Linked DNA regions of Homo sapiens: region 2 is linked to region 1. Evidence: fine-mapped expression QTL. A gene starts in region 1. The other region holds a variant in brackets. All regions are shown on one strand. Distances are between the middles of the regions. Region 1 holds the start of AK2 (adenylate kinase 2). Region 2 overlaps AK2 (adenylate kinase 2).

Region 1 (10,029 bases):
TTTTTCTTACACTTATTCACATTTATCAGTTAAAAAAAAAGACCATTAATACAGTGAAAAAGTAATGTGTTCAGGGTAAGTAAGCAGCATAGTAGCATCATCAAAATAATACCTGGAGATGCTGAAAAAACTGTGTTGTATGTCTGTGTTTTGACTGCAACCTGTCACGTGAGGTCAGGTGTGGATTTTTGTCTTTTTTCTTTTTTTTTTTTTCAGAGACAAGGTTGCTCTGTCACTCAGGCTGCAGTGCAGTGACACCATCATACCTGGCTGTAGCCTTGAACTCCTGGGCTCATGCAATCCTTCCACCTCAACCACAGTGGCACAATCATACCTGGCTGCAGCCTTGAATTCCTGGACTCAAGCAATCTTTCCACCTCAACCTCCCAAGTAGCTGGGACTACTGGAGTGCACCATCATGCCTGGCTAATTTTATTATTAGTAGAGACCAAGTCCAGGCTGGTCTCAAACTCCTGGCCTCAGGCAATTCTCCCACCTCAGCCTCCCAAAGCGCTGGGATTACAGGTGAGAGCCACCACACCACCTGTTAGTGTGGAATTTTCTTTCTTTCTTTCTTTCTTTTTTTTTGATACGGAGTCTCGCTCTGTAGCCCAGGCTGGAGTGCAGTGGCGCAATCTTGTCTCACTGCAACCTCTGCCTCCCAGGTCCTGGTTCAAGCAATTCTCCTGCCTCAGCCTCCCAAGTAGCTGGGATTACAGGCATGCGCCACCATGCCCAGCTAAGTTTTCTATTTTTAGTAGAGATGGGGTTTTGCCATGTTGGCCAGGCTCATCTCGAACTCCTGACTTCAGGTGATCCGCCCGCCTTGGCCTCCCAAAGTGTTATAGGCGTGAGCCACCACACCTGGCCTACTTATTCCTTATATCTAGATTACCCAACGCAGCCCTGGCTCCTATCACTTCCAAGGCCTGTGGTTGTACAACTGAATCCTCTCAGCGAATTTTGTTTTTGCTTGATGTAGCTAGAGTCTGTTTCTATTGCTTGTATCCAAAGAATATGTACTAGTTTCCTATGGCTGCTAGTTTCCAATTACCACAAACTTGGTGGTCTATATGAACGGAAATTTATTACCTTAAAGTTTTGGAGGTCAGGAGTTCAAAATAGGTCGTATGGGGCTAAAATCAAAATATCTTCAGGGTCATGTTCCTTTGGAGACTCTAGGGGAGAACCCATTTCCTTGCCTTTTCTGACTTCAGAGGCTACCATCATTTTGTAACTGAAAAGCAGGTTAGTTGCTCACAACATTCAGAGTCCAGTTAAAAAGAGCAAGGTCTGGGACGAAAAAATGAATTTATTTTGAAGCTAGCTTGTGGAAATGGCACGAAGCATCCTGCCTTAAATGTGCCACTTCCCTTTTGGAGCAGAAAGCGGGCCTTTTATAAGGTGGTGGGAGGAAGTAAGCAGGGGGAGGGCGTCTCCGTTAGCTCTGGTGGCTTAACTGCTGGGCAGTTGACTTAGTGCCTTCCTGGGCAGAAGTAAGTTATAAAAGTGGCCAAGTGGACACGCTTTCAACATTCCCTCTTGGTAGGTGTGAGTTCGAAGCAATCCCCCAGAGGGTAGAAGTTCCAAGGTGAAAGTTCCCTAGCGGGCATGCTTTGCTCTGTTAACTTTCCAAGAATTAGATGAACTTGCCTTGAAGGGAGTGTCTGGTGAAGAAGTTGGTAAAATTTCTTCTTTAGAAATTCAAAGAAATTCAAAGATTAAATCAGAAGTGGGAGCAGGAAGAAAGGAGAAGAGAAAATAAATTTTAAAAGGAACTGGCCGGACACGGTGGCTCACTCCTGTAATCCCAGCACTTTGGGAGGCCCGAGACAGGCGGATCACCGGAGGTCAGGAATTTGAGACCAGCCTGGCCAACATGGTGAAACCCCATCTCTACTGAAAATACAAAAGTTAGCCGGGGGTGGTAGGGGCGCCTGTAATCCCAGCTATTCACGAGGCTGAGGCAGGAGAATCTCTTGAACCCAGGAGGCGGAGGTTGCAGTGAGCAGAGATTGCACCACTGCACTCCAGCCTGGGTGACAGAGTGCGGCTCCTTCTCAAAAAAGAAAAAAAAAAGACTTAACTTGTGATTCATTACACTTCAAAGTGTATTGAATAAATCTTACACTTTGTGTCTTTATGGATAGTCTTCCTTACTTTCCCTCCTGGGAGCCCTAAGTCTTGTCACAATCACTATAGGGATTGATGGTAGAAAGGGAAGGCTGCTCCTACTCCCCTTGCCTGGTCCCTGTGCATAGAAAATTTCAATAAACTCTGGTCTTATTGGACTGAAGTGAATTTTGGCCACAGAGAGGCTTCCTGCAGCTTGTTTTCCCATCCCTCTGCCCATAAGCCCTGTAATCTCTAGGGCACCTGCTTGTCATCCTCAGTTGTTTTTGTTTTTGTTTTCAGAGTCTTGCTCTGTCACCCAGCCTGGAGTGTAGTGGTGCCATCTCAGCTCACTGCAACCTCCACCTCCCGGGTTCAAGCGATACTCCTGCCTCAGCCTCCCTAATAGCTGGGATTACAGGCATGCGCCACCACACTGGGCTAATTTTTTTGTAATTTTAGTAGAGACGGGGTTTCGCCATGTTGGCCAGGCTGGTCTCGAACTCCTGACCTCAGGTGATCTGCCCCCCCCTCAGGCTCTCAAAGTGCTGGGATTACAGGCGTGAGTCACTGGACCTGGCTCATCCTCAGTCTTAATTGTGAGTCTGCTACTGTGTGACTTTGGTCACTACGTATCTTCAGGCCTCAGCTTCCATTCTGAATAATAGACATAACAATCCTTTCTTCCTTCAATGTCATTGGGAGTATCCAACAAGATTAAGCAGGTACACTGTAAAAGTCCAGCGTGGCGATGAGAAATGAATGTTGACTTCTGTGTGGTAAGGAAGAGACCACAGCTGGGCTGGGCACAGTGGCTCACGCCTGTAATCCCAGCACTTTGGGAGGCCCAGGCGCGCGGATCACGAGGTCAGGAGATCAAGACCATCCTGACTAACACGGTGAAATCCCGTGTCTACTAAAAGTATAAAAAAAATTAGCCAGGCGTGGTGGTGGGCACCTATAGTCCCAGCTACGCAGGAGGCTGAGGCAGGAGAATGGCGTGAACCCAGGAGGTGGAGCTTGCAGTGAGCCGAGATCGCGCCACTGCACTCCAGCCTGGGCAACAGAGCGAGACCACGTCTCAAAAAAAAAAAAAAAAAGAAGAGACCACAGCTGAAGGGATAGCAAATTCATCATCAAGATGTAGAAAATGAGTTGTTAGGAGCCTGTGGGGAAACATAATCGTTTCATTACACACTCTTAACTAAAGGTCCAAAGAGGCCCTTGGAGCTGGATGAAACTTTCACACACCAAAAAGCTGTAGAAATTATTTCCCTATCCAAGAGGGTCATCTCTTTTGAGAAAAACTATCTTTTCCTGACTTTAAAAGGTTAACGTTTTTCTTAATATAAAGGTAAAACTTGTTTTAAACTTAAGTTTTTAAACTTATTAAGAATTTACCATAGAACTTTAAAAAATCTATTAAAATATACAAAGGAGAGGTGCTCCTCTAATCACACTACACAGCGGTCTACACTTGTAATAAACAAAATCGGGATTTTTTGGGGGGGGAGTGGGACGGAGTTTCACTCTTGTTGCCCAGGCTGGAGTGTAATGGCTCAATCTTGGCTCACTGTAACCTCCGCCTCCTGGGTTCAAGCAGTTCTCCTGCCTCAGCCTCCCAAGTAGCTGGGATTACAGGCATATGCCACCACTCCCAGCTAATTTTGTATTTTCAGTAGAGATGGGGTTTCATCATGTTGGTCAGGCTGGTCTCGAACTTCTGACCTCAGGTAATCCGCTCGCCATGGTCTCCCAAAGTGTGGGGATTACAGGCGTGAGCCACCGCGTCCGGCCAAAATTCGGATTTTGTTGTAACTGCAATTTTGTATCTCGCTTTGCTAACATTTTCCCGCATGATTAAATTATCTTATACAACAGGGGTATTCCAGGATACAAATTGGTTGCAATTTATTTAACCAATCTCTTATTGTTGGACATTTGGAGTATTGCCTTTATTTTATGGTTTTTCTCGGGCTTTTGGGCTAAGTGTTGCAATTAACAACTTTGTTACACGAATCTTTACTCATATCCTTGATTTTATCCATTGAATTCGTGGAAGTGGAATTGCTGGACCAAAGGGTATTTGAAACATATTACTAATTTGTCTTCTAAGAGTGATTTTACCCATTTAAACTCCCACGCGCAATTTAATAGGATTTCAATGTTGTTGCTGGTGTCGTCAACTGTCAAATGCCGAAGTATACCTTCCGGCCTGACCTCCTGTCCTCCTTCGCGTTTTCCCGCCCACTCCGCACACCCGCCACCCTTAGTACATGCTGGCCCGCCCCTTCCTTATCCCGCACCAATTCTGTCCAATCAAAAGCAAAGTTCCTCAGTATCGCCGTGCAGTTGGTAAGGTGAAGAGTCCGTCGTGCTCAGGGGCGGGCGGAACGGGCTGACGGACGCGGCTATGGGCCAGTGTGAGCGGCGAGTGGGACGTGCGTGGCGTGCGTGCGTTGACCTGGGAAGCACTGGACCTGTGAGGCGTGCGAACTGGTGGCAGTGAGAGACTTCGGCGGACATGGCTCCCAGCGTGCCAGCGGCAGAACCCGAGTATCCTAAAGGCATCCGGGCCGTGCTGCTGGGGCCTCCCGGGGCCGGTAAAGGGACCCAGGTGAGCGGCAGGACTGGGCTTGGCGGCGGAGCCTGCTGAACTCCAAGGTCAAGGCGGCCGGAGATCTAGAAGCCCTGGACCTGCCCGGAGCGGGCCGGGGACTAAGGCCTGCGGGGAACGCTGGCCGGGGTCTCGGTTCTGGTGGGGCATTTCGGAGAGGGTCCAAATTGGAGGTCGGGGCAGTCTGAGTTAGGATTGGAGTGCCCGAGGGATTCAGTGTTGAAGTGTTGGGTTAGGGAATGTGAGGGCTGATTAATTCCACTAAGGGTCTAGAGACTGGAAAGGTTTGAGGGGTAGAGTGAGCCCTGGGCCGAGGCATCTAGATTACAGGCTGAATGGAGGCAATTAGCTTTATGGCCCAGGTTACCTGCGAGTTGGAGGTGAATTGTCCAGAATCAGGGTTACATTCCAGGCACTGGAGGTCGGGAGATTTTGATAATGATTTATGACTTAGGGGGAGGGGAGGAGAAGCATCTCCAACACGTGGGGCAGAGTGAGAGGTGACATGTGCTGTGTGAGCCAGTTGAATTGAGATGGGAGGAAACCTAAGGCTCTCCCTGTTTGAAAGTTGGGGGTGAATGTGTAGAACTGGTTTATAGCCTGGAGACCCATGAGTCGCAACCTTTGAGTAGTGTCCACAATAAGGGTTGGGAGTGCTCATGGGACCTGGCTTGGAGTTAGGACCTGAGGCTACTGAAGGCTAAGCAGCTTGGGATGACGCAAATGATTTTAGATGAAAAGGAACTTGAATTTTTTTTTATTTTGTTTTTATTATTTTTGTTTGTTTGTATCTTCCTTCCCTTTGGTTTTTATTTATTTTTTCCTTTTTTTATTTTGTTGTTGTTTATAGGGAACTTGAAATTTTAACTTTATCAATCAACAGGTTAAAAAACAGGCCCAGAAAGGTCAGGTGGCTTTCCCAAATTAGTGAAATGAGTTTCATGAGCCTGAGACCTCAGGAACCATGGAGTTAGAGTCTGAAGTTACCATCTGCCCTAGCAGGCAACAGGGGCCTCACTTGGGATCTGGGCCCCTTCTAGATCTGGGACATAATGGGGCCATAGATTAGGGTTGGGATCGATGATCTCATTTCGGATTTGGAAGCCCGCAGGTTGGATTATTGATGTCCCCTTCTTGCTTGGGGTCTGGCATTGCACCTGGGGCCCTAAGCCTCTGGCTCTTGCCTGTTGTTAGGCTTCAAAGAGGGAAGTCTGAGCTCCCAAATGAAAGGGAATCTGAGGACTGCCCTGTGCCCGCTTTTCTCTTCCTAGCACTTGCCAAGTTTTAAAAATCTTGGCAAACAGACCATCTTACTCATTCTTGGTACCCCTTGTGGCACCTAGCACATTACTTGGCCCTTGATGGGGTTAGTGGAAGTGGATGAATGTCACAGATTAATGTGGGTGATAAAGAAAGAAGTTCTGGAACACTCCATTCATTCCTGTGACCTGGGCACTAAGTCAGAAAATACAGCTTTCTTTTCTCTCCACAGACTGAGATGATTCTTCTTTGGAGCTTACCTGTACCTGATCCCTTTATCCTTTATCCTCAGCGTTGTTGACATCTCTTTCCTGTTGCTGCCACACTCATTTATTGGGTAATCTGCAGCTTAGGGAAGTTTAATCTTAGACTCTGCAGACTTTTGCTGTGAGTGATCAAGTATAAACAGTAGCTCAAATGCTTCATTGTTTTTCTTTTTCTTTTTCTTTTTTTTGAGACAGGGTCTCACTCTGTTGCCCAGGTTGGAGCGCAGTGGTGTGAGCTCAAGCAATCCTCCCACCTCACCCTCCCAGGTAGCTGGGAGTACAGGCACATGCTACCATGCCCAGCTAATTTTTAAACAATTTTTTGTAGAGACAGGGTCTTGCTATGTTGCCCAGGCTGGTATTGAACTCCTGGACACAGGCGATCATCCTGCCTTGACCTCCCAAAGTGCAGGGATTATAGGCACAAGCCACTATGCCCTGAGATTTTTTTCTTAACTCATATTGAAGTTAATAATTTCAGTAATTATGGAATGGACAACCTATACTAGTATAGTACTGGGACAAGGGTTTTATAATTTAGCTAGCTATGTAACTTCCGAGCCTCAGTGTTCTTACCTGAAAAATGGGGATAATACCTACCTTGCTCATTCAGCATTTCATGAGCACCTAACATTGGGGATATAAAGCATTGGGCAAGACTGATAAAGTTCTTGCCCTCATCAACTAAACATTCACAATGATACTGGAAAATTATGATATATGTGTGTGTGTGTGTGTGTGTGTGTGTGTGTGTGTGTGTATCAAGCACCCACAACCTAGATGACAGCCTGCTATATAGTAGGTACTCAATAAATTTTGACTCCCTTTTATCTTAGTAACACATCTCCCTTCCCCTCCTTCAACTTGGATGTTTCAGTGTAAGACATGATTTATTCAGGAAGTTTAGAAGAACATTATACTAATGAGTTGATTGATAAGGGTGCATGAAGATGAGAGTTGGTCAGAGAAGGCTTTGTAGAAATAGAGGAGATGTGATTAGAGCTGGGAGTTGAAAGGATAAGATTTACACAAGTCATTTAACCTCTGTACACTTTCCAGAGTTGTAACAATAGGAATACTGGTGATTGTATGTATTTTTGTGGAGTTTAAAAAAAAGTTCAAGCCTGGGCAACATGGCGAAACCCCATCTCTACAAAAAAATGCAAAAATTAGCCAGGCATGGTGGTGTGTGCCTGTAGTCCCAGCTATTCAGGAGGCTGAGGTGGGAGGATCACTTGAGCCTTGGAGGCAGAGTTTGTAGTGAGCTGGGATCTCACCATTGCGCCCCAGCCTGGGCAACAGAGTGAGACTTTGTCTCAAAAAAAAAAGATCTTAAATCAGACTTTACAAATGGTAGCCTACAATAACATTTAGCCTGCAGAGACATCTCATACACCTTAACTTTTTATTATGAAGAATTTTGAATACACAAAAGAAGACAGGATGGCATAATGAGCCCTTACCCAGCCCCAACCATTAACTGGTGGCCTTCGCTCCTCTAGCCATTCTCCCTTCACAAATTATTATAAAGCACCTCCCAGGCATCATAACATTTCATTTGTAAATAATATTAGTATGTATTGCTAAAAGATAATTTTTAAAAACATAAGCATAATATCCTTTAAAAAATCAACAATTTTTATTCAAATTTTCTTTTGTGTTACCAATGTGATAATTTTAAGTTTCTTTTATTTATTTATTTTTTTACAGACAAAGTCTTGCTCAGTTGCCCAAGCTGGAGTGTAGTAGCCCAATCATAGCTCACGGCAGCCTCAGTCCTCCCACCTCAGCTTCCTGAATAGCTGGGATTACAGGTGCATGCCACCATGCCTGGCTAACTTTTCTAGTGTTTTAAAGATGGGGGTCCTGCCATGTTGCTCAGGCTGGTCTTGAACTACCGGGCTCCTCCCTCAGCCACCCAAGTAGCTGGGACTACAGGCATGTGCCACTGTGCCCATCCTTTCTTTTAATTTATAAGTTCCCCTTCTCTTTTTTTCCTGGGGTTTTGCCGAAGAAATTGGATTATTTTTCTTTTCTTTTTTTTTTTTTTGAGACAGAGTCTCGCTCTGTTGCCCAGGCTGGAGTGCAGTGGTGTGATCTTGGCTCACTGCAAGCTCTGCTTCCCGGATTCACGCCATTCTGCCTCAGTCTCCCGAGTAGCTGGGACTACAGGTGCCTGCCACCACACCCGGCTAATTTTTTGTATCTTTAGTAGAGACGGGGTTTCACTGTGTTAGCCAGGATGGTCTCGATCTCCTGACCTCATGATCCGCCCACCTTGGCCTCCCAAAGTGTTGGGATTATAGCCGTGAGCCATCATGTCCAGCCCCAGAAATTGGATTATTTTTCCTGGGAGTATTATACCACTCTCTGGGAATTTTCAGTTGTATTCCCCTGGTGTACTTAACATCTTCCTCTGCCCTCTCTATTTCCTGTAAATTGGTGGTTTATACTTAATTAGTATATACTTAATTCAATTTAGGTTCAATTTTTTGGCCCAACTACTTCACAGGTGGTGGGTGCTGTGCTCTCCCTGAGGAGGCACATGGTATTTCCTTGTCTCTGGTGTTTATAGTCATGCTGTTCAGTGTCTAGGTTCAGTAATTCGTTATGGATGGTGAAATGGTGGTATTCTAATTATATTGTTCCCTGGTCATTTATTAGCTGAAATATTTCTATAAAGAGAAACTTCCCCTCATCTACTGTTTCGTTACCCCGTGATATGGTTGGTATAGAAAAGTCAGGATAAATGCTTGATTTATTCTCTTTGTCAGCTTTCAAAATAGTAGGTTGACCACAGAGCGTTTTCGGTTATGCAATTTCTCTTAAAAATCCAGAGCTCCAGTTTCTCTTGAGAAACCAGAAGACCTGGCAGTGATGCCTCCATTCCAGTGTGGCAGCAGTCACTTGCAGTTGTGTGGCATTGCTGCTTTGGATGGTCTGTGTGTCTTCCTGTCCCCTGCACGGTCCTCTTCACTGCCCATTGCTTACATTTGACTCATTTCATACAGTTGCATTGCCTGCTTGGCTCCCACTGGCAGATGTTTGCAATCTTACATGTAAAATCCCTAACCTGGGGTTAGTGCCTAGTGCCTGCTCAGTAATGTTTGTTTTCTTCCTGCTATACTTTGTTATACCTGCGTAACTCAGTATTTTATGTGCTTTATGTTGCATGACTGAAATAATGTTTCCTTTTAAAACTCCTCACTTTTAACTAAAGTAGTTAAATATTTCAAAACTACTCGCTTTTGCATCAATGTAATGTTTTAAAACATCTATAATACCTGGGTTTGTTATTTTATTTAAATAACTTTATTTCCTTGCCTCCCTTTTGGGGTTGGATGCTCCTTCGGTGTGGTCAAAACCAAAGGTATGTTTCTTGGTTTTTTTGCCAACCCCTCCTCATTTCTTCCATGTGTCAAACTTATGCCCAATTCTTCGAGGCCAGGCACGCTTAGGCAGTCTTATGGGTCAGATGCATCAGTTATGTCATTGCAGTGATACTTGCAACATCTCTGAGACCCACACTCTTATTTCCCCTTTTACAGTTGGAGAAACTGAAGTTTGAATGGCTTGTTCTCTAGGCTACATAGCAAGTAATTTACAGAGCTTGCATCTGAATGACTCCAAAGCTCCTGCTCTTTCTGCTGCTATCTACTGCCCCAGGTTAGATTTTTCTCCTACCGTGTGCATGTCAGGAGGGTGTAATAATTACAACATAGTCACCCATTGCTCAGTTACGTGACAGACCCCCAAGCTAAAGATTTTACATGT
Region 2 (10,029 bases), 24 kb after region 1:
GGACTCCAGCCTGGGTGACAAAGCAAAACCCTATCTCAAAAAAATAAAAATAAAGTATCACACTCACGGTAGCAGTGATTGTAGATTCCCAGTCCTGATGATACCTCCAAGCCACGCTCAGTGGCTCATGGAGCTATTTTGGTTGGTACTTGAGAGCAATCCCATTTTGAGAACTTGGAGAGTGGGGTTTCTTTCATTTACCTTCTGTGGAATGAGCCTTGTATTGTTTTAAAAAGTGGTATTTGTGAATGGCAAAAGAGCAGTGTGTGGGAGTCATATTTGTTGCAGCCTGGCTGCTATGTGCCCTGTGCTCTCTAGAAGGTAAAAAAATATCCTGGTCCGTATCTCATGCCCCTAGCCCCTCCCAAAGTTGCTGCAGCTGAGCCCAGCAGCCTGCTCTCTCCTTTCCCTGGGTCTCCCAGTGGATGCCATTTCTGAATGAATGCATCAGAGGAATCCTTCCAGGCACTCAAATAATGGAAGGTGCAACCTCACAGTACATGACTGCAGTCACAGGAACCTTTACTCCTCTGTCCAGTTGGCCTTCCATATCCATGGTTCCCTCATCTACGGATTCAAGCATTTGTGGATTAAAAATATTCAGAACAAAACCACCAATAAATATAACCCAGGAAAGCTGAAGAAAAGAAAAAATAATACAAATTTTAAAATTCAGTATATCAATTCTTTACATGGCATTTACATTGTATTAGGTATACATAATCTAGAGGTGATTTAAAGTATGCAAGACAACCAGCCTGGGCAACATAGTGAGACCTCATCTCTACAAAAAATTAAAAAACTAGACCGGGCGCGGTGGCTCACACCTGTAATCCTAACACTTTGGGAGGCCGAGGTGGGTGGATCACGAGGTCAGGAGTTCGAGACCAGCCTGGCCAACATGGTGAAACCCCGTCTCTACTAAAAATACAAAAAATTAGCCGGGCGTGGTGGCAGGCATCTGTAATCCCAGCTACTCAGGAGGCTGAGGCAGGAGAATTGCTTGAACCTGGGAGGCAGAGGTTGCAGTGAGCCGAGACCATGACACTGCACTCCAGCCTGGGCAACAGAATGAGACTCTGTCTCAAAAAATAATAATAAAATAAAATAAATTAATTAAATAAAATAAAAGAATTAGCCAGGCATGGTGGCGCATGCTTGTAGTCAGCTACTCCAGAGACTGAGGCGGGAGGGTCACTTGAGCCCAGTAGTTTGTGGTTACAGTGAACTATGGTCATTGCCATTGCACTCCAGCCTGGACAACAGAGCAAGACCATGTCTCAAAAAATAAAATAAATAGACCAGGCGCAGTGGCTCACACCTGTAATCCCAGCACTTCGGAAGGCTGAGGCAGGTGGATCACGAGGTCAGGAGATCGAGACCATCCTGGCTAACACGGTGAAACCCCGTTTCTACTAAATATACAAAAAATTAGCCAGGCTTGGTGGTGGGCGCCTGTAGTCCCAGCTACTTGGGAGGCTGAGGCAGGAGAATGGCGTGAACCCAGGAGGCGGAGCTTGCAGTGAGCAGAGACCGCGCCACTGTATTCCAACCTGGGTGACAGAGGGAGACTCTGTCTCAAAAATAAAATAAAAATAAAAGTACACAGGAGGATATGCATAGGTTATATGGAAATGCTGTACCATTTTATATCAGGGACTTGAGCATCTATGGATTTTGGTATCCACAGAGGGGGCTCCTGGAACCAATCCCCCCATGGATACCAAGGGATGACTCTATAGCTTATTTTCTCTACTGTCACCTCCCTCCTGCCCATAACCCAGTGCCACTTTATGCCAAATGGACCATCTTGTCCCCCCAAAATATGCTGTGATTAACAAAAAAGAAAGTAGCACATTTTACAGAGGTGCTACTTCAATAGTCTAAATAGAATTGAATAGAATTTTTATTTATTTTATTTTTTTGAGACAGTCTTGCTCTGTCACTCAGGCTGGAGTGCAGTGGTATGATCTCGGTTCACTGCAACCTCCACCCCCAGGTTCAAGCGATCCTCCTGCCTCAGCCTCCCAAGTAGCTGGGATTACAGGTGCCTGCCACCCAGCTAAATTTTTCATATTTTTAGTAGAAACGGGGTTTCGCCACGTTGGTCAGGCTGGTCTCGAACTCCTGACCTCAGGTGATCTGCCCCCCTCAGCCTCCCAAAGTGTTGGGATCACAGGCATAAGCTGCTGGGCCCGGCCCAAATATTGCTATGCCTGCCAAATGGTGAAAAATATTAGGGAGCTCTAGTCTAATAGACCTTCATGAGAAAAGCAACCATTAGTTAAATAAGCAAACAAACACTTGGTTGGCAGAGAATTGAGAAACCACAGAAGTGAAGCAAGGCCTGGCTGCTGAGCAGAGCTTGGCCTGCCTCCTTTCCTTAGGTTTCTAGGCTCCTGTGGTGTGGCCATTCCCAGTCAGGAACATGGGCTTGTTGTCTGTAGGGACTCAGCACAGATGCAGCTGCCCACTATACATTCAGTGCCAAATAAATGCCTGTTCTTGAGCTCTATATTCCATGACTTGTTTAATAAGTCATTTTTCCCGATTACTTGAATATTGCTCCATAAGGGTTAGGCTATCTTTTATCTGTGTGATTGAAAAGATGTGTTCCATTATCTGGCAGTGTTTGCATCCATGGGAATTATTTTTCCTGTTAGTACCTTCCTGGTTTTGTAACCAAACTAGGTTAGAAAATAGAGTTCATTTCTTTGTCCTCTGTCCCCCATAGCACTTTGTACAAATCTCTGTTAAAGGATTATCACGTTTGTTATTTATTTCCACATTTGTCTCTCCCACTAAGCACTACTTGTGAGCAGGGATCATTACTCATTGCTTTGTAGCTTCTGAATTCAGCTTAAGGCTTGAATGGAATACTTATTAATGTTTGTTAAGTAAATGGGTGAACAGAATGGATGGCTGTGTGAGACCAGCACCAGAGTTCCTTCTCTCAAGTCCTGAATTAGGTAGTTATGCCAGCAGTTTGCTCTTCAGCCAGATACTCATAATAATGTTTGGTCAAAATAGAAAATATACTCTGCCGCTGGCATAAGCTCTCCTGGAAGCCCAGTTATTTAGCTGGATTTTCTGCTGGGTGCTGGGTCCTTGCATCCAGCGTCCCTATCTCTGCTTGTCATTCTGGAGCCCCCTAGAGTGGAGTGCAGGCGCGTACTGTCAGTTAACCTAACTCATATTCATTTGCTGTCTTTCAGGCTGATTCACCCCAAGAGTGGCCGTTCCTACCACGAGGAGTTCAACCCTCCAAAAGAGCCCATGAAAGATGACGTATGTAAACTCAGGACAAAAAATTTCCTTTTCTTTCCTTCCCCTTTCTTCACTGTTTTTCTTTTTCCTTTATTCTTTCCATCTTCCTTTTATTTCTACCAATATTACTAACTTAGTCATGAAAAATAACACTATCAAGTAAATCACATGGCCTGTGTCAGATCTATTCAGTGTCTCCTCAGGTGGTTTATTGCTTGGCCTCAAGGTTGCTTCCAGTGGTGCTAGCTTTTTGCAGTGCCCAGATTGTACCTGTCTTCTGTCAAGAGCAGCCCCTTTTCTGGCATCATGGCCACCTAAGTGATCAGCTAATCAGGAGAAGCTTTCTTAAAAGCCTACAATTGGAGAGTGGGAAGAGTGTGGCACTGAAGAGAAGTTTGATGACCAGTCCTCCAGAAAAATATTCTTTTTATAGTTATTGCTGCTGTACTGTGTCCTGGGGTTTCATACATGGTCACTGCACCATTTGCCATAAAGAGTCTATATGGTTTGTTTTAAAGCATGCAGGCAACAGTAAGAATTTCCTGGGTTTACCTTTGTCCTATGAAACAAGTTCATCAGGTCATTCAGGTTCTATAAATACAGGTTCCAGAGCCGTTATGGCAACTTAGTCACATTTTGCAAAGTTGCTAATTCTACCATTGAAAGTTCTTATTTTACTTGCCACTTTTAGAATGTTGATGGGTGACACTCTAGTAAATACACTAAATATTTAAGCAACTAAGATTACAATTGCTAATGTATCTTTGATTTTGATGTATTCTGGTCTTAGGGGCCTTTTTGACTTCCTTACTTTTGACCCTAGAAGTGTTTATCTTGGAAGCTGAATCGCCTGAGCACAAAGATGAGAAAGTCATTGCCTATCTTCCCCTCATGAGCCCCTTTCCTCACAGTTGGTGTTTCTGACAAACTCTCTGACTTCTGTTCACCAGCTGCTCTGCTCCTGGGAGTAGCAAAGTTCTTCACTGGAGAGGGTCTGGATTGCCTGTCTTTGTCTCTGATGGGCTTTGGGAACAGACAGCATCCTGGGCAGAATGGTCCCATCTCAAATCTGCATCTGGCATGGAATAAGAAAACCTTGCTAACAGTCCCAGCCTTTCATTGCTGTCTTCCTGTTCTCAGATCACCGGGGAACCCTTGATCCGTCGATCAGATGATAATGAAAAGGCCTTGAAAATCCGCCTGCAAGCCTACCACACTCAAACCACCCCACTCATAGAGTACTACAGGAAACGGGGGATCCACTCCGCCATCGATGCATCCCAGACCCCCGATGTCGTGTTCGCAAGCATCCTAGCAGCCTTCTCCAAAGCCACATGTAAAGACTTGGTTATGTTTATCTAATGTTGGGTCCAAGAAGGAATTTCTTTCCATCCCTGTGAGGCAATGGGTGGGAATGATAGGACAGGCAAAGAGAAGCTTCCTCAGGCTAGCAAAAATATCATTTGATGTATTGATTAAAAAAGCACTTGCTTGATGTATCTTTGGCGTGTGTGCTACTCTCATCTGTGTGTATGTGTGTTGTGTGTGTGTGTGTGTGCATGCACATATGTGTTCACTCT[G/C]CTACTTTGTAAGTTTTAGGCTAGGTTGCTTTACCAGCTGTTTACTTCTTTTTTGTTGTTGTTTTGAGACAAGGTTTCGCTCTGCCACCCTGGCTGGAGTGCAGTGGCGTGATCTTGGCTCACGGCAACCTCTGCCTCCTGGGGCTCAAGCAATTATCCCACCTCAGCCTCCTGAGCAGCTGGGACTACAGGTGCATGCCACAACACCTGGCTGATATTTGTATTTTTTGTAGAGACAGGATTTTGCCAAGTTGCCCAGGCTGGTCTTGAACTCCTAGGCTTAAGCAATCCACCCACCTTGGCCTCCTGAAGTGCCAGGATCACAGACGTGAGCCACTACACCCAGCCCAGCTGTTTACTTCTTTAACCATACTTTTGATTTTATTTTTTGACCAAAATGAACTAACCCAGGTAATCTTCCAGGGACCGCAATTCCAGAACCTCATAGTATTTCTTCCATTTCCAGCAGCTGATTAGAAGTCCAGGATCATGTGAAGTCAGGCAGGGTCACAGTTCCTGATGGCACATTATGGACAGAGAATTCCATTTTGTTTTCTAACCCATGATGAAAACCCACGTGAGTCAGTGTGTGAACAGGGATCATTAATTTTTTCCCCCTAGGTGGAAGGAAAAAGGCACTTACTTTGCAGGTTACAGAAATTACTGGGAGAGGATATCGTCATAAAAAGAGCCAGGCCAAATTGGAATATTTTTGTGATCTGCATCATGATGCTGAAAATAGCAATTATTTGGGAATTGGGTTTGAAAACTGAATTGTTGCCAGAGAATTAAACCAGGTGAAAGGTCCTTTTGAATTCAGATTGTCTTCTGAACATCCAGGCTGATCATCTGAGAGCAGTCAAATCTACTTCCCCAAAAAGAGACCAGGGTAGGTTTATTTGCTTTTATTTTTAATGTTTGCCTGTGTTTCCAAGTGTGAACAAAACAGTGTGTGATCTATTCTTGGATTCATTTTGATCAGTATTTATTCAAACCCAGTCTCTCTCCAGGACATAAAACTGAAATCAGATATGTTCTTTTTAAGCCCAAACCCTCTCCTTTCTAGATCCAACCCTTCACCCCTAATTTTATGATGGCTATAGCCATGGACTTCCCCAAGAAAAGATCACCCAGAAATAAGACCACCTGTGACAGTTACCAGCTTTTATTCATAACCTTAGCTTCCCAACTATTGAGCATTTTCTAAGGTCCCTGCTGTCTTTTGGTCTCTGGTTTGATTTGTGGCAAACAGATGAAGTAACAGACTGCTATGAAGGACCACAAAAACGGCAGCCTCTGGAAAAACCATTAGAAAGTCAGTGGCAGATCCAGTAAATAATATCGCCAGCCTCAGCATAATCTGCTGCTGACTCGATTCAGTGGACTCTAAAGTGCCCAGCCTCCTGACCTGAGCTCTCCTGCCATCTGTGAGACTACCAGAGGTCTTATCTGCTGTCCACATGGCAACTGGGCATGAGTACCTGGCCACCTTGCTTCCCTCTTTGCCTGGTCCAAGTGAGTGTCTGCTGCCTCTGTCCTGCCTTGTTTTCCTGGCTCTAAACCAACTCCACCCACTCTTAATGGAAACTCAGTCTGGCTTTGTGTGTTTCTGGGAAGCACATGACTTCTGGGAATGGGCAAGGAAGAGGAGTGAAACAAAAACTGTCAGCTATGTGTGCCTGGTCTGGGATCCTTCTCTGGGTGACAGTGGCATCATGAATCTTAGAATCAGCTCCCCTTTAACTAGGGACAATTGTAAGCACTTGGCCTCAAAGTTGAGGTTCTTGAATGTTTGCTAATTTTATGTGCATGATCCTTGCCCAAATATTTGTCATCCGTCCACATAGATTCACGTGTGCATACAACATGTACAAGTAATATTTGGGCTGCCCATAAGAACTGGAAGATTCATAGGGAATGCATATACCCTTCTCAGTATGGTTAGGATTCTGTTTTTGCTTCATTTAATTCCAGAGTTCCTCAGCCTCAGCAGGTTCTGCTTTTACCTGTCACAGAAATGTCCAGTGTTTAATGCATTTGGTTGCTGGGGCTTACATGCCAGCCTCCTCTGATATGTACTTGGTTTTTAAAAACCCATTTTGTTCTCTCTTGTTTCCTCTCTATTTCAGCCTAGTATCAGAAGGCCAGGCGAGACTGCAACACTGCTCATCACCCCGCGGCGTGATCCCTGCTCTTAGGTGCTGGGCAGAGGGGAAGGGTGGTCAGGGTGAGGATGGTGAGGGAGGGCTGGTGAGGGGCTCAGAGGAATACTTGGAACAACAGCAGTGTTATTGTAGTGTGGCAGTTTCTTTTATACATAGGTGAGAGTTTTTAAAGTGTAAGGGAAAAATTAATTTTTTAAAAAACACCATGCTTGGAGGGTGGGGGTAGAAATAGACACAATATTATTTCTAAGGAATCGGGTTTTCATTTACTCTGGACTGGTGAAAATATTTTTTAAAGCCAGTGCTCTAAGACCTCAGCTTTTATCTCAGAACCCCATGGGTTCCAGACCAAGAGTACAGGAAATCAAATTGTTGTCCTGTCTGTCTATAGCTTGGAACAGGGAGCTTTGATTACTGACTCCGGTTCCACACACTGTAAGATCAAAAAACCATCTCCACATTTGAAAGAGATGTAAGGTGTATTCATAGGGATGGTGGCTCAACAAATCAAGCAAACTGGAATCAAGGGGAGGGGGAAGGGAATGAAATGGAAAGGGAGGCTGATTCCCTTCCCCTGACTTACCACTAATTTACTAGGCTACCTACTTTCATGAGTAACCTCTCACAGCTACCCAGCACATGCCACAATCCTATGCTCTTGCCTTCTTTTATCTGCACTGTGTGAAGGGACTCTTTTAAATAAATGAGCAAGTGTCCTAAGCTATGTCATCCAAAGATTGTCCTTTCCATTCTCAAATCCTGTGACTGGGATCACTCAACAGCACTGTGATGTATTATTTTCAATGAGGTGCCTTTCTTAACTGACCAAATGCTGCCTTGTTTGGCCCCTAAATCAATAAAATATGTTAAAATTTGTATCCCCTGTTGTGGCATTTTTTTTAGATAATCTAAGCTAGAAAAATGACATTGAATTCTGGACCTGGCTGGAAGGAAAAGAAGCCCTTTCTTGTCGCTGGCAGCTGTGTGGTAGGGAGGTCCAAGTATGTGCATATGAGATAAGCCTGCAACCTCTTGACCTTCAGCTCCTATGCAGGCTTCTCTTGAGCCCAGAGACAAGGCAGCTTGGTCTAGTGGAGATAGCACTGTGCTTGGAGTTCAGGGGACCTAGGACAAATCCCAGCCAGTTAGTTATTCACTGTGCTCCTGTTTCCTCAGCTGAAAAAGGAAGTTGGTTATGCCACCTTCTTGGCCTTAATGGCATTAAATGAAATTTATAGGAAGAAGGTTTTTGCTCAGTACCTGGCATGCAACAGACATTGGATAAATGTTAGTTGGATCCAGATATACACAGAAAGATATCTGCTTCCTGCCAGGCTGGATAACTGTTGAATGGACACTTGTCCATAGTCTAGAAAGCCAGTGCTTCTAATCCTTAAGCCAGATCTTTGACTACCTTTTCAGTTGCTTCTTTAACACTCTTTGTTGCTTCTCTGTGTGTCCTAGTTTAAATTCATTTCCTCTCCAGCAAAAGTGAGCTTAAATAATTTCTCCAAACTAAAGCTCTCATGTTTTTGGAAGGGCTGCCTTTGCAAGTGAGGTTTCTGAGAAATGACTGTTGTTCCCAAAACAAGAGGGAGCTGGGCTGGAAGCACCACTATTCTTCTTTAGGCATCTTGTTACAGAGAGAGGCAGGGTCTTCACTGACATATTAAATCCTGTTCCCTGAACCAGCCCCTCCCTCTTCTGCTCCACTTCCTCACCTGTGCAGAGTCATTTTCAGGTGTTAGCCTTACTGATTTGCACTGATCTGTTTGTTCCCTGAGCTTTTTAAATACCCTGTGAAAATTTTCTTTCCTCCCTTGGTCATCATGCATCTAATTGTGGGGAAATGTTTGTCAAACCAACCTGCAAAGCAGCATGGTGTAGTTGAGAAGAATAAACAGAGAAGACTGGGTGAGCTATTGTTTGTTTGCTTCTTTGGGCCTGGGTTTCCTCATCTAATCTGCAAACCAAGAATGCAGACTAGTCCTACCACTCCCGGAAGACTGACGTTGTGCCAGGTATTATGCAAAGGCTTCATGTAACCCTCGACTTCACGTAACCCTCACACAGCACCCTGTGGAGTCAGAACTGTCCTTCACTTTTATAGGTGAGGAAACCAGACTCAGAGAGGTGAAGTGGCATTCCTGAGGTCATGCATAAGAGGCAGTCAGGACTGAAACACAGTCTCTAACACTTATCCGTCCCCTTGATCTTGTTGCTGAAGTGATTTAATTACTTGCGTAGCTCTGCACACAGGAAGGGCTGCTCTGAATAAGAGCTCTTTTCCATGGACACTCAGCGCTGCCGGAACTGATTTTGAAGAAGTCACTGCCGGCTCTGAGGGCCTAGGGTATGTGTCTTAGGATCTCCTGTGTGCACAAAGTGTCACTGACAGAACACAGCAGGATGGAGAGCAGCCTCCTCAGAAGCCTCACAAGTCTTTCCTCAGATGAAGACAGAGCAACGAGTCAGAAGACAGATTTCAACAGCGACTTCACCATGCGACCTTGGACAAGTTATCTCACCTCATCAGTAGAATAGGAATGATCCCTACCCCTCAAAGGTGCTGATGACACTAGTGACCAAGATACTCATGTGGGTTGGACTGCCCAGGACACAGCAGATGCTTAGTAAACACAGATGGAATTCAGAGGGAAAATGTAGGCATTGAAGAAAGTTGTCTTACTGACCATCCGGAACCAGGCTAAGGATCCCCTAGAAATCATAGACCTCTGAAATTATATGCAGAATTCTTTATGTGTTTTCATAATTAATAATAGTCTAACATATTAAATTCTTAGCTGTGTGAGAGGTTCTGCATGCATTATCTCATTTATTCTCCTCGATAACCCTGTGGAGGTAAGTATTGCTATTATCTCTATGGTATGTCTGTAGACTTTGAGATTCAGACATCTGATAATGGCAGAACCAGAGCCTGAGTCCAAGTCTGGCTCCACACCCCAGCCTCTTAACACTGTGCCAATTGCTTTGACACTTTGCTGGGGAGAGATGAA

Evidence for each region. PIP is the estimated chance that this variant, and not a neighbour inherited with it, causes the effect.
Region 2: its variant is fine-mapped to the expression of AK2 in whole blood (TOPMed, PIP above 0.99). The same link has a PIP of 0.9 or more in blood mononuclear cells.

The regions. Positions count from the first base shown.
Region 1 is chr1:33,031,436-33,041,464 of GRCh38, reverse strand. AK2 (adenylate kinase 2) reads left to right here and starts at 4,582. Exons shown (of 6, transcript NM_001625.4): 1 at 4,582-4,729. The coding sequence starts at 4,637. RefSeq lists an enhancer at 4,604-4,763.
Region 2 is chr1:33,007,781-33,017,809 of GRCh38, reverse strand. It overlaps AK2 (adenylate kinase 2), which reads left to right. Exons shown (of 6, transcript NM_001625.4): 5 at 3,216-3,288; 6 at 4,408-9,824. The coding sequence ends at 4,629. Among named protein-coding and RNA genes, the nearest start is that of AK2, 24 kb to the left of the region's middle. The variant G/C (reference allele first, on the strand shown) is at 4,848.